Linked DNA regions of Homo sapiens. The protein of the gene in region 2 interacts with the protein of the main gene of each other region in a biochemical or structural test. Each region holds a gene or a part of one and is shown on either strand. Other genes may lie near its edges. The genes, in order: KLHL26, ISG15, HIF1A, NAP1L1, HDAC6, TPM4 and BRAP.

Region 1 (4,194 bases), on a different chromosome or scaffold from region 2:
TCACTTGCTGAGAGGCCCCAGAAGTCGCACTTGGCCTCCCTCTTGCGGGCCTGCATCTGACCGTCCCGAGAGACAGCGTTTTCCCACAGCCTGAGCCCAGGTGCAAGGGAGGCTCCTGCAGCCGGCGTCCAGGCCTCAGCGAGTAGGCAGGGCATCTGGAAGTAGACAGGCTTCCCCCAGGCTCGGGGCGGTGCCGGGCTCCAGACCCCTTTGGGCCGCCAGGCAGATTGGGCTACGCTGGTCCAGGGGTGCATGCACAGATATGTGTGTGTGTGCATATGTGTGAGCTTGTGTTTCACTGTGTGCGGGTGAGCGTGTGAACGCGCTGCAATGCGTGGGTATGGGCAAGCATGCGTGTGCAGGCGTGCACGAGCACGGCCATGTGAATGTGCGTGTTGCGGCATGCGTGTGCAGGTGTGTGCATGAGCATGTGCGAGTGTGCGCAGGCATATTCTGCCTCTGAAGGACACAAACGTTCACAAAGTGAAGATTCAAGCCAGTTTCTGCTAAATTAAAAACAGCTTTTTCATGTTTAAAGTTTACAATACGAAAAATAATTTTCCTTTCTTGGGGGGATGCGGGGGGAGGCTGAGGGAGGGGCAGGGGGCCCCACGAACATTCCACGAACCGGCCTAGACGGTTATGCACAATCGATCCGGTTAGATACAGCAGCGCCCCCCGCCCTGGGCCGGCGCCCCTGCCAGCTCACTGGGGACAAGATGTTCTGAGGTGTGAGCTGATCCAGGGGACTTGCAGCTGGCAAAGCTTCTCACTGCTCCCCTGAAGGGGCCATGCCTCCAGTGGGGAAGGGTTCTCTTTGGGGGAGCTCAGGTCGGGGGTGGGGCTGGAATGTTCTGGTAAGTCCCCAGGGAACTCGGCTTTTGTCTCGATGCCCCTGACAGTGTGGGCTTCTTTTAGGTTCCCAACCATGTTCCTATTTTAGCACTGCCCACCCCCTCAGCCTCTAGTGTTACCCCAGCCCCGATGGCTGCCACACAGGAGCGCCAGGCATGCAGGCACAGCAACTTATGGAGATCCATGTGTGTGTGATATCCCAGGGCCTCCCTTCTGGGAAGGCCGTCCGGGAACATCAGGCTTTCTCTGCTAACCTGCAACTGATAAGTGGCCTGCTCTGGGCAGCCCAGTTCATAGTTTGGCCGGCCATGATGAGAATAGGGGGCTGAAGGCTCTTCCAAAGTGCCAAGGTTGGTCCGGGCATGGTGGCTCACACCTGTAATCCCAGCACTTTGGGAGGCAGAGGCAGGTGGATCACCTGAGGTCAAGAGTTCAAGGCCAGCCTGGCCAACATGGTGAAACCCCGTCTGTACTAAAAATACAAAAATTAGCCGGGTGTGGTGGTGTGTGTCTGCGTCTGTAATCCTGGCTACTTGGGAGGCTGAGGCAGGTGAATTGCTTGAACCCAGGAGGCAGAGGTTGCAGTGAGCCGAGATCACGCCACTGCACTCCAGCCTGGGTGACAGAGCGAGGCTCCGTCTCAAAAAAACAAAAAAACCAACAACAAAAAACGCCAGGGTGAAAGTCCTGGCCACGCTTCCTGCTGCCTCTGCGCCCCTGAGCCAAAGCCCAGCCCACTGCCGACTCCTCTGAAAGGCTGGAAAAGGTTGAGGCGGGGGAGAGGAGCCCCCAGACACGCGGAGGACACACGAGGAATCTGTGACCAATCAGACCCAAGCCGCACAAGCTCAGTGCTGGGCCGGCTCCATCTCTTCACCATAACATTTTTATTAAATAAAGGGAAATATTAGGAGACGATGTCTGCTAAGATAGGAGGTTAATTCTTTACATGGTGAGTGGGTCACAGAGACAAGACATCAATCGTCTGTTAGCAGCGAGAGAGACACTTTAAGTTGCCCCAAGAGTACAAATCCCATCTATGAGACAGCAGTGCTGGCTTCTTAAAAACAGTAAAACCAATCAAAAAGAAAAGATTTAGAGGTTCAGACATTAGAACAAATGTGGCCAGAGATACCACAGAGCCCTTGAAGGGAAAGGCCTCACTGCTGGCTCCGTAGCAATGTTGACCCAAAAACAGGGCAGGCCAGGGAGTGGCAGGGCGCGGAGGGGTGGAAAGGAGGGAGGAGAAAAAAGACACCCCACCAGACCTGCGGCAAGCGCCACTATGGGATTCTGAAGTTAGCGTCGCCCTCCAATTGCGGGAAGGGGACTGCCTGGCCAACAGGGCAAATGTAGAGGGCCGGGATGTCTCAGCCAGTTAAGGCCCCACAAGATGCTCAGTGCCAAATGGAAGGTCCCAAGCCCCTAAGGAGCGTTTCTAGGAGTTGATATGGTTTTTCCTCCGGAAAGCAGATGAAGGCAGGAACTGAGGCATGACCAGGGCCTCCCCTCAGCAGCTTGGGATGGGGGAAGGAGGGCACCCCAGGGGAGGCAGACACGTGCCCTCCTCCTCCACCCACCCCAAACCAGGGGCTTCTAAGCCACCTCTCACTGCTCCTGGAGGTCCGTGTGTTACGGACGTTTCGGGTGAGTTTATTTTAAAAACACGCGCGCAGGAGACTTGGAAGGAGGGTGAGTCATATACCACCGACTTTGGGTTCAATGTTGATGAGCTCACATCTGAATGCCTGAAACCGTGGGGCTGGGAGGCAGTAGAGAAGTGAGATGGAGCTGCACAGGGACCCCCTGGAGACCTGGGATTCCACCCGCCAGCCCGTGGGGACTCGGGGGCCAGGCGAGGAAACCACCCCGGGGACGAATTTGCTGCCACCACATGTCAGACGCTTTGCCGGCAGGCTCCCTCGGATGGACTCGCAGCCAGGATCTGCTTTGGGAAGGAGGGAGGGAGGGACCCCTGGGAGGGGGGCTTATCAACGCAGCAGGCCCCTCAAGGGCAGCCCGGGCGAAGGGGGGCACTGGGGTTCTCAGGCAGACGTGCATTCGCCAAGCCCCACTTGGAGACAACATGCGGTCAGGCCAGGGTCCCGGGGGTCTTGGGGGCTACCTCCTGGTCCCGGCCCGGGGCAGCAGGACGGGGGCGCAGGCTATGCCTGCGAAGGACTCCGGGAAGTGCAGGTCCCGCTCCCACTCGTCGGTGTCCGTGTTGTACACCTGTACGATGCCCGTGACGTTGTTGAGACGCCAGTTGTAGCCCCCGACGATGTAGATCTTCCTCTCCAGCAGGCAGCAGCCGGCCTCTGACTGGCCGGCCCGCATGGGGCTCACGCTGGTCCACTGGTCCGTCTCCGGCACATAGTACTCCACAGCCAGCACGTCGAAGCAGCGGTCCACGTGGTCCATGCGGCCCCCGAGGGCATAGATGCGGCCGCCGGCACCCACCATGGCGTGTAGCACGCGGGGTTCGCTCATGGGCGCCTTGAACTCCCACTGGTCGGCCACGGGGTCGTAGCAGTGCAGGGCCTTCTTGTCCTCCACTGAGATCCCGTAGCCACCCGAGATGTAGAGGCGGCCCCCTGAGGCGGCCCCAGCATGGCCCCAGGTACGGCGCTTCAGCGAGCAGGCGTAGCCCCACTCATTGCGCCGGGGGCAGTACCGCTCCACGGAGGCCAGGCTGCCGGCTCGGTTGCGGCCGCCCGTGGCGTACACCATGCCGCACAGCACGTTCAGCTGGAACTGGATGCGGCTTTCCTGCATGGCCTGCAGGCGCAGCCAGCGATTCAGGTGGGGGTCGTAGCGGTAGCAGGCGTCCACTGCGCCCTCGCCGCTGCGGTACTGCAGGTGCTGCCCCCCGGCCACGTACACAAAATTGTCCAGCACGGCCACGCACGTGTGGCTGCAGCCTACCTCCATCTCCGTGAGCTCGCGGAAGTGGCGGGCTCCCGGCTCAGGCAGCTGGTAGACCTTGCTGCTGACCGAGCGGTCGCTGTCGGTGTAGGGCGTGCCGCCGAAGGTGACGAGCGAGGGCACATCCGAGCGCACGGCGGTGCGCGGAGACTGCATCTCGTGCTGCCGGAAGGGCAGCACCTGGTAGTTGAAGGCCTCCAGCAGATACTGGCGGCACAGCACGTCCTCCACCATGATGTCCAGCGTCTGCACGCTGTCCACCAGCTCGGACGACTGCATGAGCGGGAAGCGAATGTGGCAGAGCACGTGGCTGGCGCGCGGCCGCCGGGCCGGGTCATGCTGCAGCCAGCGGACGGCCGCGCGGAACAGGTCGATCTCGGCACAGCTCTGCAGCCGGTTGCTCTGCAGGAAGAA
Region 2 (3,031 bases):
CCTCCCTAGCCCAGCCCAGGCAGGTGGAGCAGGCTGTGTAGGCTGGGCTAGGGACGGCTGAGGTCCCCAGCCCCCAGTTCCTATGGAGAGCCTGCCTCACAGCCCACCGGGCAGGCCCCAAGGACTCACCCCTTACTGCTCCCAGGGGCCCACTGGGAGCCTCCCCTTTTGATCTGATCAGGCGGGTCCCTGCCTAAGCCGTCTGCTGTCCCAGATGGAGGACAGGCAGGATGGGCTCCAGCAACTGTGTCTCTTTTTCTTTTCCTAGAAGTTAATTTCCCAAAGGGTGGGGAGAGCTGTCTTACTTCAGTTTCGGGGTGGGGGGCTCCCTATTTTGATCCCTCGAAGCTGTAACTGCAAACCCTTATCCCTTCACTTGGCAGCCCAGGCCTGGTCACCAGGATGGACCCTGGGTTCTCCCTCCTGACTTCTCCCGCCCCATCACCAGGGGTCTGAGGCGGACGCTGGAGGAGGGGCAAGCACAGACACAGAGGCGGCCATTTCTCTTTACAACAGCCTTTATTTCCGGCCCTTGATCCTGCTCGGATGCTGGTGGAGGCCCTTAGCTCCGCCCGCCAGGCTCTGTGCCGCCTCCCCGCAGGCGCAGATTCATGAACACGGTGCTCAGGGGCTTGAGGCCGTACTCCCCCAGCGGGAGCTGGTCCTCCAGGGGCTTCCCCTCGAAGGTCAGCCAGAACAGGTCGTCCTGCACACCCTCCAGCCCGCTCACTTGCTGCTTCAGGTGGGCCACGGTCTGCGTCAGCCGTACCTCGTAGGTGCTGCTGCGGCCCTTGTTATTCCTCACCAGGATGCTCAGAGGTTCGTCGCATTTGTCCACCACCAGCAGGACCGTGCTGCCGGGGCCCAGGCCCTGGCTGGCAAGGGGGACCCTGTCCTGCAGCGCCACACCGCTCGGGTGGACAGCCAGACGCTGCTGGAAGGCGTGCACGCCGATCTTCTGGGTGATCTGCGCCTTCAGCTCTGACACCGACATGGAGCTGCTCAGGGACACCTGGAATTCGTTGCCCGCCAGCATCTTCACCGTCAGGTCCCAGCCCTGCAGGCGTCACACAGGTTCAGAGACTGCGGCGCCAGCCCCAGGCCCACCACACACAAGGCACTGGCTGCAGGGCGAGCTCCTGTACCCAGGGACAGTGCTCCCTCCTGTCTGTCCTCTACATCCCGCCGGCAGGGACCCCAGGCACAGAAGGCACTGAGGGCTCGTTACTAGAAGGCCAGCTGCCCACCGCCATCCCGTGGCCTCCCTTTACCTGCTAGGGTGCCCCTCTGTGCCCCACCCTGAGGATCTCAGGGGTGACCTGCTTTCAGGAGCACACTTAGAACCTGGCCAAGCTCTGAGCAGCTCCGCTCTCCCTGCACCCCTGGGAGACCTTGGCTGGGGGAGGGAGACGAAAATTGGCTGGCACAGAGCCCACCTCCCCCCACCTGTGACATCTGCCTTACCATGGCTGTGGGCTGTGGGCTGTGGGCCACGGCACAAGCTCCTGTACTGGCAAAGATGAGTTCGCTGCCTCTCAGCCGCCGGCTTCGGCAGGCAGCACCGGCCCTATTATAAGCCTGAGGCACACACGTCAGGGGGCGTGCCGCCGAGCCTGCGCTGGTGGCCAAATTTGGCTTCAGTTTCGGTTTCCCTTTCCCGAGGCATGCCCCAGAGTGAGCGGAAGAAACAAAACCGAATGACCGAAAGACAGGGAAAAGCAAAAGTGGCGGGGACTCCGGACAGCGGACGGCATCCCCACCCCCACCCAACACCCTGGAAACACCTAAATATCGCGCATTCCAGATCCTTCACAGGATGCACTAAAGCTGTCATCACATGGACTAATGGTTTCATTTTCCATTTACCAACTTGCAAAATTAGTAAACTTGGAAAACATCCCCATGGTTAATTGAGAAACAAGAACTCCAAACTACCCAGAGATAACAACACTCGGTTTAGGGCAGTATTTGCTCAGATTGGTGTTTTTTTGTTGTTGTTTTTGTGTTTTTGAGACAGGGTCTCTCACTCTGTCGCCCAGGCTGGAGTGCAGAGGCACGATCTCATCTCATTGCAACCTCCGCCTGCCAGGCTAAAGCGATCCTCTCACCTCAGCCTCCCACGTAGCTGGGACCACAGGGGTGCACCACCAGGCCCGGCTAATTTTTTGTATTTTTAGTAGAGATGGGGGTCTCGCCATGTCGCCCAGGCTGATCTCGAACTCCTGGGCTCAAGTGATCCACCTGCCTCGGCCTCTGAAACTGCTGGGATTACAGGCGTGAGCCACTGCACCCGGAGCCTCAGATTGTTTTTTAATAAAAGAGACCTATCTTTTATTTTCTACAAAAATGAACTCTGGGACACTATTGAGAAAGTGAAAAGACAATCCATAGAATGGGAAGAAATATTTGCAAATTATCTATCTGATGAGGGCATAGCATCCAGGACATATAGAGAACTCTTACAACTCAATAAAAAATAAAAATAAAAAAAAAAGGCAACTCAATTTTCAAATGGCCAAAAGACTTCAATAGACATTTCTCCAATGACATAGAAACGGCTGTAAAGTGATGTTCAACATCATTATTAATTGGGGAAATGCAAATCAAAACCCCAGTGAGATGCTATTTCCTGCTGGTATGACTGTAATAATAAAAATAAAGGCCAGGCCGGGTGCGGTGGCTCACGCCTGCAATCCCAACACTTTGGGAGGCTGAGGCGGGCGGATCACCTAAGGTCAGGAGTTTGAGACCAGCCTGGCCAACATTTTTAGTAGAAACCCCATCTCTACTAAAAATACAAAAATTAGCTGGGCGTGGTGGTGCACGCCTGTAATCCCAGCTACTTGGGAGGCTGAGGCGGGAGAATCCCTTGAACCCAGGAGGCAGAGATTGTGGTGAGCCAAGATTGCACCAATGCACTCCAGCCTGGGCAGCAGAGCAAGACAGTCTCAAAAAATAATATAAAATAAACATAAAGGCAGTAACAAGCACTGGGGAATACATAGAGGAACTGGAATCCTGGTACATGCAT
Region 3 (3,500 bases), on a different chromosome or scaffold from region 2:
ATTATTTATGTAAAATGTGAAAAAAAAGGTGTAAAAATTTTTCAACTGCCTATGATCATGATGAAAGGTTACTGCCTTCTTACAAAAATTATATTGGCATCTTCTTAAAAATAATTCGAAAAAGGGATAAACTCCCTAGCCAAAAATAAATAAATAAAAAGGTGCATTTTTTAAAATGATGCTACTGCAATGCAATGGTTTAAATACCAAAAAACTGAGAAAATGAGCTGTCTGTGATCCAGCATTAAAGAACATACTAAAAAAGAGCATTAATGTAAATTAAGTAGAAAGGGGATCAAAATTGAACTAACCAAGTTTGTGCAGTATTGTAGCCAGGCTTCTAAAATTAGATGTAGAAAATATAAATAGACTGCTTTAGGTAATGAGCCACCAGTGTCCAAAAAAAGGAATGAAATTAAGAAAAAGCTCAGTTAACTTGATCCAAAGCTCTGAGTAATTCTTCACCCTGCAGTAGGTTTCTGCTGCCTTGTATAGGAGCATTAACTTCACAATCATAACTGGTCAGCTGTGGTAATCCACTTTCATCCATTGATTGCCCCAGCAGTCTACATGCTAAATCTGAAAAACAAAAGAGATACCTAAGTATACATTCATCTAGTCAATGAATATTTATTAAACACCCACAATGTGTTAGGTATCATAGAAAATAAAGCAAAATTCTGGAAGGGTTTTTAGTTTACCTGGCAAAACCACAACTATGTTAAAAAGTAAGTATAATCCAGTGATACTGTTGCTGTGTCAGAAATGTTTACAGGATACAATAAAGGCACAAAGAAATAACAATTTGGAAAAAGGCATAAATATGGTGGGCATCAAAGCTGATGCCTGTAATCCTAGCACAGGCTGAGGCAGGAGGATCACTTGAGGCCAGGAGTTTGAAACCAGCCTAGGCAACATAGTGAGACCCCATCTCTACAAAAAGCAACCGGGTGTGGTGAGGCATGTCTGTAGTGCGAGCTACTCAGGAGGCTGAGGTAGGATGATTGCTTGAGCTTGAGCACAGGAGTTTGAGACTGCAGTGAGCTATGATCATGCCACTGCACTCCAGGCCTGGGCAACAGAGCGAGACCCTGTCTCAAAAAAAAAAAAAAAAAAAAAAGAAGTCATAAAAGTTCACAAATTTCAGCTTCTATCAATATTGACAGCACATGGACATAGAGAAATCAAAGAAAATTACTAAAAATGAAAAGCTCCACCTTGAAATGTTAATCTCTGTATTAAGACCATCACATGAAATACAACTGTACTTTTTTTTTTTTTTTTTTTTGAGGCAGAGTCTCACCCTTGTCGCCCAGGCTGGAGTGCAGTGGTGCCATCTTGGCTCACTGCAACCTCTGCCTTCCGGGTTCAAGCAATTCTCATGCCTCAGCCTCCCAAGTAGCTGGGATTACAGGCGCCCGCCACCACGCCCAGCTAATTTTTGTATTTTTAGTAGAGACGGGGTTTCACCATGGTGGCCAGGCTGGTCTCCAACTCCTGACCTCAGATGATCTGGCTGCCTCGGCCTCCCAAAGTGCTGGGATTACAGGTGTGAGCCACCGCGCCCAGCCACAACTTTACTTTTTAATCTTGCTAAGGAACCAAAGTCATTCTCACTTAGATTAAAGCTCCTAAATAAAAATGTTTCATGTATTTTGTCTTTGTGATGTTCAAGGTCAAAAAGAATAAACTAACCAGAGGGTATTAAAATAATTGTCTTTTGCTCCATTCCATTCTGTTCACTAGATTTGCATCCTTTTACACGTTTCCAAGAAAGTGATGTAGTAGCTGCATGATCGTCTGGCTGCTGTAATAATGTTCCCTATAAACAGTAAAGTTATTTCAAGTTTAGTTTGTTGAATTTTTTTTTTAAACAACCAAAAACCTTGAAATTGGTGTAAATTTAATAACATTATAGGCAGTTTCTTAAATACTACCCTAAATTATTTTGAATTCTTTCTTAAGTTATTTGTCATCCATTATGACCATTCTGTCTATAAATACTTTCCAGTTAATTTAGTTTGAAAATATCAGAATGTATTATACCACCATTGACTTACCCCAAAACATAGCAGTTCTTTTTTAAATATGAGATGGACTCTCACTCTCTTACCCAGGCTGGAGTGCAGTGGCCTGATCTCAGCTCATCGCAACCTCCACCTCCCGGGTTCAAGCTATTCTCCTGCCTCAGCCTCCAGAGTGGCTGGGATTATAGTTGTGCACCAACACGCCTGGCTAATTTTTGTATTTTTAGTAGAGACAGGGTTTCACCAAGTTGGCCAGGCTGGTCTCGAACTCCTGACCTCAAGTGATCCTCATCTTGGCCTCCCAAAGTGCTGGGATTACAGGCGTGAGGCACTGTGCCTGGCCAATAGCAGTTCTTTTAATAAGGCAAAGTAACTTAAAGGGAAGAGAATGAGATTGGTGGTGATATTCAGGGTGGAGTAAGGGGAGAACTTCACTTTTTAACTCAAAATACACTGGAATTGTTTGGAATTTTTATACCAAGAATGTATGTATTAAACATTTGTATTTTTAAAAACCAGTGCATACAGAGTAAAAAAACCCAATGTATAACTTCTGAAAATATAACTTTACTATTTGGAAGAAACGTGGAAACACACACACACACACACACACACACACACACACGAAATAGCACATTAGCTAGAAAAGCAAAACCTACTACTCATACTTACAATTCCTACTGCTTGAAAAAGTGAACCATCATGTTCCATTTTTCGCTTTCTCTGAGCATTCTGCAAAGCTAGTATCTTTGGATTTAGTTCTTCCTCAGGAACTGTAGTTCTGAAAAGAAAAAAATTCTAAATGAAAATATAGCGTTTTTAAAAAAAATATCCAGTGAGCGCTTTTAAAGAAAATACATAATTCTTTAGTTCTCCAATATTAAGGAATATAATATACATAAGATAACTTTCCTGATCACTAAAGTTTATCATCTTAAAAGTAAAAGCTTAATTTTTTTTTTTTTTTTTTGGTGAAACACGGTCTTACTCTGTCAGCCAGGCTGGAGTGCAGAGACGTGATCTCTGCTTACTGCAACCAAGCCCTGCCTCTGGAATCAAGTGATCCTCCCACCTCAGCCTCTCAAGTAGCTGGGATTATGACTAATTTATATATACATATTTTTGTAGAGACAGGATTTCACTATGTTGCTCAGGCTGGTCTCAAACTCCTGAGCGCAAGTGATCTGCCCACCTTGGCCTCCCAAAGTGCTGGGATTACAGGCGTGAGCACCTGGCCGTCAAAGCTTAATTTAACAGGAAATTTTCTACAGTATGCGTATCCCTATTTTATAAAATAGAGCTGAACACAACTAAATTGACACTATTGTAGAGTCAAAACAGTTAAATATTGTCCTTTTATTCCACCTAATATAACAATGCAGTGATATTGTTGGGACTATTGAAATACAAGATCAATCTCACATTCGTATAGCATTTTCAGTTTATAAAACATTTCAAGTTCATTAGTTCATT
Region 4 (3,500 bases), on a different chromosome or scaffold from region 2:
TTTATGTAATTCATGTTTAAGAAAACCAAAATCTGATGCCTACTGTACTCACTATGCCCTCTGGATATCTTTTTAAAAGACTTAATCCCTGGATCAAATAGCCATTTAGACTATTTCAAAAGCTCTAGGTCCCAATCTTAATGTTAGGTAAGCCTTCCCTATCTCTCCAAATGTACATGTACCTCATGTTAGATAACTGACAACCACCAACCTCCAGCTTCCCCTAGATATGCTAGGGACATTGTCAAGACTTGTGGTTACCAGACCTGAGTAAGTTTACTGTTAAGACTCACCAGAGGATATCCTAAGTTCCTTCTCACTAAAAGATTAGTATGAACCTGGAGAATACTGCTTTTGGAAAAACAAATCTTAAAGCAGATGTGTTATATCCAGGCAGAAAAAAATGGTAGAATGCCACAGGTAATCTACAGATTACCAAAAAAAACTAAACCAAGTTTAGATAGAATCCATGTTAAAATCAAGTTTATCTTAGCCAGGCACAGTGGCACGAGCCTGTAATCCCAGCTGCCCAAGAGCCTGTAATCCCAGCTGCCCAAGAGACAGGAAGATCTTTTGAGCACAGGAGTTCAAGGCCTGCCTGGGAAATACAGCAAGACCCTGTCTCTAAAAAAATTATGAATAAATAGAATCAAGTTATCTGGTAAAAATTAAAATCTTAATACATATTTAATTCACAAAATCCTGCATGTGTTTACTTTCATAGCAACGTATTATGCCTATGAACAAAGAGTTAAAAATGGAAAACATCCTGATTTTAGCAGTTAAGTGCTAATATTTGGGGGAAACATTATTACTGACCTAGTATCTATCCTTTAGAGTAATTATAAAGAAAATTATTCTTCCTAATGTATCTAACTCTGTAAATATTTTGTATTTGTTATAAATAATTCCTAATAGTACTGATGAATTTTTCTAGTGATGCTGGGTAATGAGTCAGCATTTACAAAGTGTTTAGCAATTATGAATATTAATCAAAAATAAGAAAAATACTGAACTCTGACATCAAAGAAATCCAAGTAGGATTCCAGTTTGTCTACCACATCATCAATAACTTCTTTTTAATACAGGGAAACCTGTAGTGCACATGCATCCTTATTTCCAGCTAGTGTTCCCGTATCTTTTCTGGAGAGCAACCTGACAATAGGAATATCAAAAGCCTTAAACATGTCCATCTCAGCCAGGCACCATGGCTCACACCTGCAATCCCAGCACTTTGGGAGGCCGAAGCAGAAGGACCGCTTGAGGCCAGGAGTTCAAGACAAGCCTTGGCAACACAATGAGACACTGTCTCTTAAAAACATAAAAATTAAAAAAACAAAATATGTCCATCTCCAGATTTATTCACTTATGAGCTCTACCATGAAAAAATTATAAAGAATCTAATGCCTTTGCTTTCCATGTTCACCTAGAAGGTTCTTCCACAGCTCTGAACAAGTCCTGCACATCCTTTGGCTCTCATTTCAAAGTTTCACTCCCCAGAGATGCTTTCTCCAACCTGCACATTCCGGTTAAGTAAGATTTCTTGGTTGTACACACACTCCTATAAAGCTTTCTTTTCTTTCCACCATAAGATGTCTCAGTCTGTAATTATAAATTAGTTTGACCTATGGTCTGTCTCTCCCAACTGACAAAATTCATGATTACAGGAATTAAATCTGATCTTGACAATCATAGCGTTGTCTTCTTTGGGGTAGCACACAAAGCTTATTATAAACTTAGTACTATAATGGAATATGCAAAAATGGAATGCTTTGCAGTCACAAATGAAACAGATCTGAGTTGATATGAAGGAACACTAAAGCAAGGTATAGGATGTATGCCGAAATCCCCTTTGGATATGGAAATATATATATATATATATATATATATATATATATATATATATATCTCCACTCATATACGCACATACTTTAATACAAATAAACCCTTTCTGAAAACAAACACCAAAAACCTAACCAGAGTAACCTAATGAGAAAGAAGGGACTGGGGGTAATGAGAACTAATTTCCCATTCACCATTACAGTCATGTGTGGATTATATGTTCTGAGAAATGTGTCTCTGGGTGATTGTATTGTTGTTCAAACATCAGAGTATACTTACACAAACCTAGATGGTATAGCCTACTACGCACCTAGGCTATGATATAGACTATTGCTCCCAGGCTACACACCTATACAGCATGTGACTGTATTGAATACCATAGGCAACTTTAATATAATGGCTAAGTATTTATGTGGTGCATGACTGCATTTGGTTTTCCAACACACAGATTTATATAATAATTTCCAATACACAAATTTATTCTGAGATTTGCTAGGTTTAATATATAGTGTCTACTAAACCCAGCAATTGTCAAAAACAGAAACAAAACCTAAAACTTCCAAATTTAAATTTTTGTAACATTTTAATGTGTTCACAGAATGGCTACACTGCTAACCTCAATGTCCATTTGCAGCATTACATTTACAGTTTAAATTCTTAAAATGAAACTTTAGTAAAGAGGATCCAAGACAGAACATTTACAGAACATTAACAGGAGGCATTTACTCCTCCAGAGAAGGCTGCTCTAACCTGCCCATTCTGGCTACATTGTATTTCTTGGTTGTAAGATAGACCTAATTTTCTAGTCAGTTGTAGTCAGATCATTTGGGCTGACATCAACTTTGTAGCAATCTACAAACTAAGACAAACAACTTCTGGCTCTATTTCATCATCTATATAAAGCAGAAAAACATCTGAGGAAGTGGGACCCAAAAATCTGCATTCTAAACAAGAAACTCAGCTTCTGAGAGGTGGTTCTCAGGTAGACCACATTGAGAAACACAAGTTTAGGTTAATACCTGTATTAATATTTTACTGCAGTTGACATTAAATAAAATCAGTGAGAATCTTATTTGTTATACATTAAATTGCATTCCAAGATCTCTGTGAAAAACTTTCATTCCTGAAAGCGACAAACTAGATTATGCAGATCAATTCTACCAATGAAAAATATGGCCGGACGCAGTGGCTCACGCCTGTAATCCTAGCACTTTGAAAGTCCAAGGCAGGCGAATTGCCTGAGCTTAGGAGTTAGAGACCAGCCTGGGCAAAATGGTGAAACCCAGTCTCTACTAAAATACAAAAAATTAGCCGGGCGTGGTTGCACACACCTGTAGTCCCAGCTACTCAGGAGGCTGAGGCAGGAGAATTGCTTGAACCCAGAGGAGGAGGCTGCAGTGAGCCGAGATCACACCGCTGCACTCCAGCTTGGGTAAGAGCAAGACCCTGTCTCAAAAAAAAAAAAAAAAAAAAAGGAAAAGAATTAAAAGTACAGATGTTTTTTAACAAAAACATTTTGTTAAAAATCTTAAAAGCACTGAAATGCTAACAAGATAGTAAGGAATCACCAGCCCAAAACTGAGGGCAAAACAGGAGCAGAAGGAAGGCACTTTTGCACTGAGGTCAACTGCCAATTATCAGCAACGTGAACTTTGGTT
Region 5 (3,500 bases), on a different chromosome or scaffold from region 2:
CAGGGAGAAAATATGATGTCAAGGAATGTGGGCGGGCAGTGAGGCTCCCGCTTTCCCCTCCTCCACCGGGGCTCACCTCCGGCAGGGGGCACCAGGTGACTCCAGCATGGGGCAAGGGTCTCCCAGAAGGGTGTGGAGCGAAGCACTGACGCCTTCAGCCAGGGCGCGGAGGTTGTAGCCACCCTGGGGCAAGGAGTTGTGAAGGGGGATCAGGAAAGGACCAGACATGACCAGGGAATAATAATAATGATGATAATAAGAGAGTGCATACCACATGTCAAGCAACAAGGAACTTAGAAGGGTGCCTCACTGAATTCACTGGACAATGATATGAGGTGATTACATTATGCTCGTTTTATAGAAGGAAAGCGGAGGCACAAAGAAGTGAAGTGACTTATGCAAGGTTGTCCAGCTAGTAAGTGAATTCCTGGGCCAGGAACTCCTGTTGGACTTGAAAGCTTCGTTCTTAAGCCCTCCAGGATCCACAGGCTGAGGGACGAAGGTGAGTCACTCACCTCCAGAGACAGGATCAGCTTGCCTCCTGCCAGACCCATGAGCAGGTGGGTTAGCTGGGCGAACCCTGCCGGAGTGGCGGCCATCTCACCCTGGGGGGACATGGAGGGTCAGCCTGGCTCCATGCAACCCACCTGCCGCCCCAGGGAGCCTGCCTTACCTTGGGGTCCCCTTGCAGGGCATCAAATCCAGCAGCCACCAGGACCAGCTGAGGCTGGAACTGAAGGGGGAACAGACTCCATGAGGCTACCTACCCTCACAGCCTAACCTTCAAGGCCACTCCTCCTCCCAACACACCCCAGATCCCCAGGACCTCGAGGGCGACTGGCAGCAGGACGTGCAGGAAAGCAGCAATGTAGTCAGCATCCCGCATCCCCACCTGCAGACACAGGAGTGTGATGGGGGATGTTCAGCCACCTGTCCCGAGCCGCTGACAGAAGGGCGGGGCTGGGCCTCACTTTGGGGGCAGAGGTGGGTAGATGCTGACCTGGTTCCAAGGCACATTGATGGTATATCCTTGGCCTTGGCCGAAACCTGTGGTGGACCAGTTAGAGGCCTTCAGGTGGGGCCAGAACCTACCCTGCTCGTAGCGGTGGATGGAGAAATAGAGGACACTGGGGGCAGAAGAAAAAGAGGTAAGAGAGTTGGAGAAGTCAATCCCCATAGACACCCCCAACCCAACAGTTGCCAGTTTCCTCTACCACTCATTTCCCCATTCAACCACTCGTTCATTCTCTCATTCATTAATTTCCCCATTAATTATTTAATCCATGAATCCATTCTTCCATTAATTTACCCTTACATTCAGTCACCAATTTAATCATCTTACCATTTTTTCATTCTTATCTTTATTTATCCATTACCTCACTCGCTCATTCATTTAGTCTCTCACCAGAACCTCTCCCTCAGCAAACATCGCTGCCCCCTCAGTGCCCACCCAATTTCAGGCTCAGCTCTAGGGTCTATCTCAGATCATGGGGGCTCCTGACTCTGTGGGGTACTCTAGATCATGTCCGCCCACTACCTGCCCCTATGACAAAGGTAGTAGTAACAGCAGGTCAAACCCTGTGACACTGGAGGCCCAAATGGAGCATGGGGCTCTTAGCTGCGGGGAGCCAGCTAAGGCTGAAAAGAGCCTCAAGCCAGGCTGGGGAGCTGGGTGATTCTCTAGCAGGAAGTGGAGAGACCTGGGGGGTAGGGGTGAGACTTGCTTCTGTGGGTGGAACTAGAGCGGGGGTGCTGGCTGGGGCTGTCATGAGGCCAGTGAAAGGGCAGTTCCTCCTCCCCAATGCCTTACAGGCCACCTCTACTACTTCTTCTATTTTATAGGCGAGAGAATGAGCACTCAGAGGGGTGAGTATGACCGACACGCAAAACAGATACTGAAAAGATGCGATGCACGTGTTTTGACAGAAAGCCCAGCAAGGGGCCATGGGAGGGCTTAATTCTGACTGGGGAAAGCAAAATGAATAATCTATCATCCATCCATCCTTCTATCTGGTCATTTACCCCCTGCTTTGTTCCAGAGAGGATCTAAGGCAGCTTTTTTAGGGAAATGCAAGAAATAGTGGTATGCATTGAATCTAGACAAACTTAAGAGTCACATTTTAATGGGTTGATAATGTAGTTGTGAAATTTAATGCAAGTGATATAGAAAGATTCTTAAAATTGAGGGAAAAGAGCTTGGAATTGGGGAATAAAAACAAGCAAAAGCTCTGGTGTTGAGTAGGTGGAGGATGATTGTTTTATTTTTGACATTGATAGATAAATCTTGGTTCTAAACTTTTAGTAAGTTAATCATTAGAGGAAGAGAAACACAGTAGGACATAAAAATTATCACCAGAGGGCTGGGCGCAGTGGTTCACACCTGTAATCCCAGCACTTTGGGAGGCCAAGGTGGGCGGATCACTAGAGGCCAGAAGTTCGAGACCAGCATGGCCAACATGGCGAAACCCTGTCTCTACTAAAAATACAAAAAATTTGCTGGGCGTGGTGGCGCGTGCCTGTAATCCTAGCTACTTGGGAGGTGGAGGTAGGAGAATTGCTTGAACCCAGGAGGCGGAGGTTGCAGTGAGCCGAGATCGGGCCACTGCACTCCAGCCTGGGCGACAGAGCATGACTCTGTCTCAAAAAAAAAGAAAGGAAAAGAAAAAAATATCATTGGGGAAGACAGGAAGAAAGAAAAGATCTGAAGAAAGCTGACTCTAAAAGAGAGCCATCAAAGTCAATAAACAGCAGAACTAGCACTCAAGCTAAGTTTAAAAAGAAAACAGAAGGGAAATTCAAAATAAGTTCAACCACCTTCAAGTTAAATGGTGGATTGATAGCACAGGTTTACTTCCTCAACCTCCTACTACCCCATTCAAAATACAGTAAAGAAATTGTAAACAAACAGCAACCCAGAAAGAGAGAGTGGAAAGGATGTCAGAGAATAAGAGACTTCAATGAATTTCTAGAAAGTAGACTTTGAGATTCCAGGGGCCCCAGGGTGCTCTGTCTCATGCTGAGCAGGATAAGGGGGCACCCAAGATAAGCTGAAGTTTCCTTTCTGGAGAAATCCAGTACAGATCCAGGTCAATGCACACAAAATCCCTTCTGAAGAGCCAACTCACTGAATCACCAATACAACAAAGTTACTTGTTTCTTTTAACTACTTAGTTTTAGATCATCTGCTTTCCTTGTCTTCACAACAGTATTTTAAGGATTATCCAGTTTGTCTCCCTGCTGCTGGAGTTCAGAGACTGAGAGATGGGGAGCTGGGAGATCCAAGGGCATGGACATGTTCTTTTTGTTTGTTTGTTTACACACGTTTGTTAATAAGGAAGAATGCACTGAATATATTCACAGTGTTTCACATCTGTGTGTGTAATCAATAGTGTACCCATGAAAGAACACACAGCTATAGCCTCCTATGCATTTATTCAAACAAAAAGAATGATTAATGATATTAAAGAATTCTTTGAATGACAGACCCTTGGCAGATTAAA
Region 6 (3,500 bases), on a different chromosome or scaffold from region 2:
CAGCCAGGCATGGTGGCTCATGCCTGGAATCCTGGCACTTTGGGAGCCTGAGGCTGGTGGATCACAAGGTCAGGAGTTCGAGACCAGCCTGGCCAACATGGTGAAACCCCGTCTCTACTAAAAATACAAAAATTAGCCAGGCTTGGTGGCATGCAGCTGTAGTCCCAGCTACTGGGGAGGATGAGGCAGAAGACTCACTCGAACCTGGGAGGTGGAGGTTGCAGTGAGCCGAGATCACGCCACTGCACTCCAGCCTGGGTGACAGAGTAAGACTCCATCTCAAAAAAACAAACAACAACAACAACAAAAACAAAAAAAAAACAGAAAGAAAGAAAAGGAGGGCTGGGTGTGGTGGCTCTCACCTGTGATTCCAGTGTTTTGGGGGACCATGGTGGGAGAATTACTTGAGCCCAGGAATTTGAGACCAACCTGGGTCACATAGTGAGACCCCGTCTCTACAAAGAATTTAAAAATTAGCCAGTCATGGTGGTGAGCACCTGTAGTCCCAGCTAATGGGGACGCTGAGGAGGGAAGATGGCTTGAACCCTGGAATTCAAGGCTGCAGAGAGCTCTGATTGGACCACTACACTCTAGCCTGGGCAACAGGGCAGGACCCCATCTCAAAAAAAAGGAGGAAGAAGCATAAAAAGAAGTAAGCAGGCCAGGCACGGTGGCTCACGCCTGTAATCCCAGTACTCTGGGAGGCCAAGGCGGGTGGATCGCTTGAGGTCAGGAGTTCGAGACCAGCCTGGCCAACATGGCGAAACGCTGTCTTTACTAAAAATACAAAAATTAGCCAGGTGTGGTGGTGGGTGCCTGTAATCTCAGCTACTCAGGAGGCTAAGGCATGAGAATTGCTTAAACCCAGGAGGTGGAGGCTGTAGTGAGGCCAGATGGCGCCACCGCACTCCAGCCTGGGGCGATGGAGTGAGACTCCATCTCAAAAAGAAAAAAAAAAAAAAGTAGGCAGAGTAGAGGCAGGCACCTTTCCCCAGCAGAAGAAATATGTGTGAAATGTGGAGGATGTTGGGGAGAGTCCTGTAGGATGGTATTGATCAGAAGGCCTAAACTGAGAACTTGAGATAAAAAGTATGGCGAAGAAAGGGAGATAACTGGGAATCTGTTACTCAAGGCCCCCTCTGTATTTCCAACCCCATTCTCCACCACCTTCCCCAGGGTGACAGGCACTCCCTGATCATAATCTGTGGACTCCTGAGTCCCAGTCCCTGTCCATGAATGCACCCCTTAGCATGGAATGTTCCCCTCCCCATGATGACCCATCAGAAATTATACTTTTCTTTTCTTTTTTTTTTTTTTCAGACAGAATCTTGCTCTGTCACCCAGGCTGGAGTGCAGTGGTACGATCTCGGCTCACTGTGACTTGCAACTTCTGCCTCCCAGGCTGAAGCAATTCCCCTGACTCAGCCTCCCAAGTAGCTGGGCCTACAGGCGCCCACCACCATGCCCAGCTAATTTTTGTTATTTTTAGCAGAGATGGGGTTTCGCTACGATGGCCAGCCAGGCTGCTCTCGAACTCCTGACCTCAGGTGATCCGCCTGCCTCGGCCTCCCAATAATAACTAACACTTATTAGCTGCTTACCATGGGCCAGACATAGTTAATGGCATCACAGCCTGGTATCTGTAATCCCATTTTATAGGGGAGGAAAGGGTCACAGAAAGGTGAAGTTATTATTTTGCCTAGGGTCACATGGCTATTAAGTGATCAAGTCATGACTGAAGCCTGACTCTGGAGTGCAGTGGGGCAATCTTGGCTCAATGCAACCTCCGCCCTCCAGGCTCAAGTGATCCTCTCACCTCAGCCTCCCAAGTAGCTAGGATCACAAGCATGCACCACCATGCCCAGCTAGTTTTTGTATTTTTGGTAGAGACGGGATCTCTCCATGTTGCCCAGGCTGGTCTCGAACTTCTGAGCTCAAGCGATCCTCCCGCCTCGGCTTCCTAAAGTGCTGGAATTACAGGCATGAGCCACCGTGCTGGACCTACAGCTGTTTTAAATGTCGCCTCCTTGGTGACACCGTTCACAACCTACCAAGGTCCCTCTATTGTATTCCCAAAGCACTCTGTGACTTTGTCAATCCCTTCCACTAGACTCGACTCTGAGCTCTTCAAGAGCAGATGCCAGGCTGGGCACAGTGGCTCACACCTGTAATCCCAGCCCTTTGGGAGGCCGAGGTGGGTGGATCACTTGAGGTCAGGAGTTTGAGACGAGCCTGGCCAACATGGTGAAACTCCGTCTCTACTAAAAATACAAAAATTAGCTGGGCGTGGTGTGTGCGCCTGTATTCCCAGTTACTCAGGAGGCTGAGGCAGGAGAATTGCTTGAGCCTAGGAGGTGGAGGTTGCAGTGAGCTGAGATCGTGCCTCTGCACTCCAGCCTGGGCGACAGAGCAAGGCTCCATCTCAAAACAAAACAAAACAAAGCAGCTGAGGTATTAGTGGTGTTACATCTATCCCCCTGGCCCGGGGCAGTGTCTGGCATACACACACCAACTGGATTCATTCCTTACACATCCTAGTATCAGATATATGCCAGGGCTGGCACATATGGGAGACAGAGGCAGGTGGATCACTCGAGGCCAGGAGTTTGAGATCAGCCTGGGCAACATGGTGAAACACCATCTCTACTAAAAAAAAAAAAAAAAAAAAAATTACACACACACACTACAGATATATGCCAGGCACAATGCTAGTACTAGGGACACAACTCTGAACAAGATGACATGGTTCCTGTCCTTACAACTTACAATCTAGCAAGGAAGGCATGCAATTAATGGAGTAACTATAATAAATGTAAGAAATCATAATGCCAGCAAAAGTATAGACAGGGCTACACAGCAGAGAAATACCTAACCTAGATGAGAAATCAGAGAAGGACTCTCAGAAGTGATGTTTAAGCAGAAGCTCAAAGGATGAACAGGAGGCCAGGCTCGGCGGCCTCCCAAAGTAATCCCAGCACTTTGGGAGGCCAAGGTGGGAGGATCACTTGAGGCCAGGAGTTCAAGACCAGCCTGGCCAACATGATGAAACCTTGTCTCTACCAAAAACTAGAAAAATTAGCCAGGCACGGTGGCCCACGCCTGTAATCCCAGCACTTTGGGAGGCTAAGGTGGGAGGATCACTTGAGGCCAGGAGTTTAAGACCAGCCTAGGCAACATAGACTGTGCTCTATAAAAAAAAAAAAAAAAATACAGTTTTGGAGTAGTGGCACATGCCTGCAAGTCCTAGCTACTCAGGAAGCTGAGGTGATAGGATTATTTAAGCCCAGGAGTTTGGGGCCTGCAGTGAGCTATGATCACGCCACTACACTTCCAGCCTAAGCAACAGAGCAAGATCTCATCTCTAGGCCAGGTGCAGTGGGTCATGCCTGTAATCCCAGCACTTTGGGAGGGCGAGGCGGGCAGATCACTTGAGATCAGGAGTTCGAGACCAGCCTGGCCAATGTGGTGAAACCTCATCTCTACCAAAAATTATAAAAATT
Region 7 (3,156 bases), on a different chromosome or scaffold from region 2:
CTGACCTCAAGCATTCCTCCCACCTCAGCCTCCCAAAGTGGTGGGATTACAGATGTGAGCCACCGCACCCAACCAAGGGGCTGATTTTTACGTTGCTTTTTAAATCAAGGCCACTTTTTTTTTTTTTTTTTTTTTTTGAGATGGAGTCTCGCTCTGTCACCCAGGCTGAAGTGCAGTGGTGCAATCTCGGCTCACTGCAAGCTCTGCCTCCCGGGTTCATGCCATTCTCCTGCCTCAGCCTCCCAAGTAGCTGGAACTACAGGTGCCTGCCACCATGCCCAGCTAATTTTTTTTTTTGTATTTTTAGTGGGGACGGAGTTTCACCATGTTAGCCAGGATGGTCTCGATCTCCTGACCTCATGATCCGCCCGTCTCAGCCTCCCAAAGTGCTGGGATTACAGGCGCTGAGCCACTGTGCCCAGCCGACACTTTCTTAGATTATTAGAGACATGCTCCCAAGCAAATGTCAGTCAGAGACACACATTTCACACGGGGCAGAATAATTTCAAAGTTTGGCTATTTTAATTCAATTTCATTGTTCAAGGTAGTATGGGTATATTAAGTGGTTCATTTCCCTCCTGAAGAAAACAACTTCTGTCTGATGTGATTTTGTGAAATTCAAACATGACTCTTTGACTGTTTAAAAAAAAATTTTTTTTTCTTTACGTATCTTGGTAAGATTTTTTTTTTTTCTGGGACATATTTTTTGTAAACCTCCAAGTAGTTTGGAAACACTTGCCTATTTGCTCATTCCTCTGGGCACAGCCTTTCAGAGCATTTATCCCACCTGTACTGAAAAATCTGTTTTCCCAGGTGGTGGTGGGGCCACTGGATAGAAGGGATCACAGAGAAATGAGGAGTGAGCGAGCTTTGTAAACTACTTCTAATTCTCTTCATTAGTATGCTATGATCCACCCCAGCTTCTGCAAGGTCAGACATGCAAGACAAGTACTTGGCCAAAACAGCAGGATTCTAACTAGTGTAAAAATAGATTTTAAATAAAATAGAATCTCTATAGGAAAGAGAATTAGGTTATGCTTTACATTCCCACTCTTAAGATATCTGTATATATAAGTCCAAGAGAGACTCAAAGAGTTGGTCTGCCCTAAGTAAAAATTAAGAATGTCTGAGTACATTCATTTTGCAACATTACACGTAAAGTTTTTTGGGAAATGCTGCAGCACATCCCACAAAAACAGATGGTGATTAGTGATACAGTTGATGTGCTAACAAGTAACATGTAAGACATTTAGGTCAAAGGGGATGAGGCCTAATTACAGGCTAAAAACCTATTCTGAAATGTGATCATTTGAAAACCTGTGGCTAATTATAAAGCAAAAACTAAAACCTGTTGTTTAACAATACATCTTACTAACCTATCCCTCTACCTCTTCAAGAAACTAAATTCCAACACAGGTCTTATTTTAAGTTTGCTCAATTACTGCAGGTTATAAATTATTTGACATTTATGGTTCCAGAGAGAGTACACAGCCCCTCTGTTGGCCCACACAAGCGTTATATGACTGTTCTAAAGGGGGCTCTGTTGAAATTCTAATTTTAGGATTTAGAAACAGCTTTTGGTTATATCTTGAAAGCGTAATTGAAAATCTGCCCAAGCTCCCTCTAGCTGCAACCTGAACATGCAGCCCAATATTTTGTAAACATTTAGAAAATACTAAACCCAACAAAATACACAATTAGCTAGTCAGAGGCCTCACTCTACATTTTCACACGGATGAGAAATCTCCCCACTCAGTCTTGCTAGATGCTAGGATACCCACTCTGAGATTTGAGTTTGGGAACAGCCATTAAGCCTCCTCCTTAATTGCGGTTCATAATGATGTACGAAGTCACCAAAAATAAACAGTGGAGCTGCCACCATTTTTCCTACACTGAGTCTACCCAATGTGCCCCGGGTTGTTTGTTTTTCCTGGCTGGCCCCAGAGCAAGAAGAGATGACTGCTGGTAAAGAGCCAGGGCCTGGTTTACTACCAGGCCTCTTTTCAGATAACATTCAAGCAATTCTTCCACTCCCCAGAGGAAGGGGGAGATGATAATGATATGACACTATTGCTAGGGAGTTTTCATAACTCCTTAATAGCCAATGGAAACCTCTCTTTAAAGCAGCTGTTATGCCCTCAGAGAGGTTTGGTGCTTTAGTGCTAGATAACCTTACCTTTGAGGTTACAAGAAATAACTTAACATCTTAAACCTACCCCAGAACTGAATGTCAAATACGCCAACTCCATAAATACAATGGAAAAATGCACAGCAGAGTTGGGGCTTCTACCAAGCAGGAAGGCAAAATGGTCATTAGAATGTGAGGTTAGTGAACTCTTAAGACCTTTTCGAACGCAGCGCCTTTCTATCAGCTCTCCAGTCAGCACCCTTTACATTCACTACATCACACACTAGCAAATGAAAGAGCCAAACAACTGTGGCTTGATCCTCACTTGTACTTATTAGGGCCCACCCTCACATTTAGCTGAAGGTCCCAGCACACTCTCACAGTGTCAGGGAGAACAGTCTCAGGGATGTCTGTTGCTCTGAAGGTCACTTGCCCCTCTTGCTGCGGCCCTTCCTGGAGGGCAACTTCCCACTGCCCCCCGAAGAGGCAGGGCTCGAGGCCGAGGCCATGGCGATGTTGATCTGTCCCTCCTGGATTTCCTGCCGGGTCTCGGCAGGCAGATGGTTGATCTTCTGCTGTGTCTCCAGGTAGAACATGACGTCACGCAGCTGCTCCTGGATCTCGGTGATCTGCAGATCTTTTTGGTCACAGGTCTCCTTCAGCACCCTCTCCTCCTCTTTTAGCTTGTTCTGCAGGAGGACTTGGTTGGCTCGCAAACACTTGTTCATTTCCTGCTCCTCTTTGAGCTCGTTGGTGAGTTTGGCCACTTTTGTGTTTAGCTGAGTGCACCTTTTGAAAAACAAAGGAAGACAAAAGCACATTTTTCATTTGCTGACACAGTCCCCTTTCTGCTCTGGGATTGAACAGAGAAACCATGACCTCAGAATCCCTTTAGGACAGACCCCTTTCTCCCATCGTGAGGGAGAATGGTTTTCTGCCATCGCAATCAGCTATGCAAAGCAAGAATTTTGCTCTACTTAACACAAGTGTATTTTTTTTTGAGACGGAGTTTCGCTCTTGTTGCCCAG

What was found.
Region 1: the proteins of ISG15 (region 2) and KLHL26 form a complex in vitro, tested with the Homo sapiens proteins (one large-scale study listed by BioGRID).
Region 3: the proteins of ISG15 (region 2) and HIF1A form a complex in vitro, tested with the Homo sapiens proteins (one study listed by BioGRID).
Region 4: the proteins of ISG15 (region 2) and NAP1L1 form a complex in vitro, tested with the Homo sapiens proteins (one large-scale study listed by BioGRID).
Region 5: the proteins of ISG15 (region 2) and HDAC6 form a complex in vitro, tested with the Homo sapiens proteins (3 studies listed by BioGRID).
Region 6: the proteins of ISG15 (region 2) and TPM4 form a complex in vitro, tested with the Homo sapiens proteins (one large-scale study listed by BioGRID).
Region 7: the proteins of ISG15 (region 2) and BRAP form a complex in vitro, tested with the Homo sapiens proteins (one large-scale study listed by BioGRID).

The regions. Positions count from the first base shown.
Region 1 is NC_000019.10:18,668,028-18,672,221, reverse strand, and holds the end of KLHL26 (kelch-like protein 26), read right to left. Parts: coding exon 2,977-4,194; coding exon of another isoform or gene 2,948-2,976; 3' UTR 501-2,947; downstream 1-500. UniProt on the Homo sapiens protein: May play a role in endo(sarco)plasmic reticulum (ER/SR) mitochondrial signaling. May be part of the ubiquitin-proteasome system (UPS) and affect ubiquitination and degradation of target substrates in cardiomyocytes.
Region 2 is NC_000001.11:1,012,010-1,015,040, reverse strand, and holds ISG15 (ubiquitin-like protein ISG15), read right to left. Parts: upstream 1,545-3,031; 5' UTR 1,468-1,544; coding exon 1,465-1,467; intron 1,058-1,464; coding exon 563-1,057; 3' UTR 501-562; downstream 1-500.
Region 3 is NC_000014.9:61,744,013-61,747,512, reverse strand, and holds part of HIF1A (hypoxia-inducible factor 1-alpha), read right to left. Parts: intron 2,809-3,500; coding exon 2,700-2,808; intron 1,823-2,699; coding exon 1,696-1,822; intron 580-1,695; coding exon 428-579; 3' UTR 1-427.
Region 4 is NC_000012.12:76,074,686-76,078,185, forward strand, and holds part of NAP1L1 (nucleosome assembly protein 1-like 1), read right to left. Parts: intron 1-3,500. UniProt on the Homo sapiens protein: Histone chaperone that plays a role in the nuclear import of H2A-H2B and nucleosome assembly.
Region 5 is NC_000023.11:48,812,067-48,815,566, reverse strand, and holds part of HDAC6 (protein deacetylase HDAC6), read right to left. Parts: intron 1,128-3,500; coding exon 1,001-1,127; intron 893-1,000; coding exon 827-892; exon of another isoform or gene 734-826; coding exon 674-733; intron 606-673; coding exon 516-605; intron 184-515; coding exon 77-183; intron 1-76.
Region 6 is NC_000019.10:16,089,995-16,093,494, reverse strand, and holds part of TPM4 (tropomyosin alpha-4 chain), read right to left. Parts: intron 1-3,500. UniProt on the Homo sapiens protein: Binds to actin filaments in muscle and non-muscle cells. Plays a central role, in association with the troponin complex, in the calcium dependent regulation of vertebrate striated muscle contraction.
Region 7 is NC_000012.12:111,641,646-111,644,801, forward strand, and holds the end of BRAP (BRCA1-associated protein), read right to left. Parts: intron 2,918-3,156; coding exon 2,554-2,917; 3' UTR 501-2,553; downstream 1-500. UniProt on the Homo sapiens protein: Negatively regulates MAP kinase activation by limiting the formation of Raf/MEK complexes probably by inactivation of the KSR1 scaffold protein.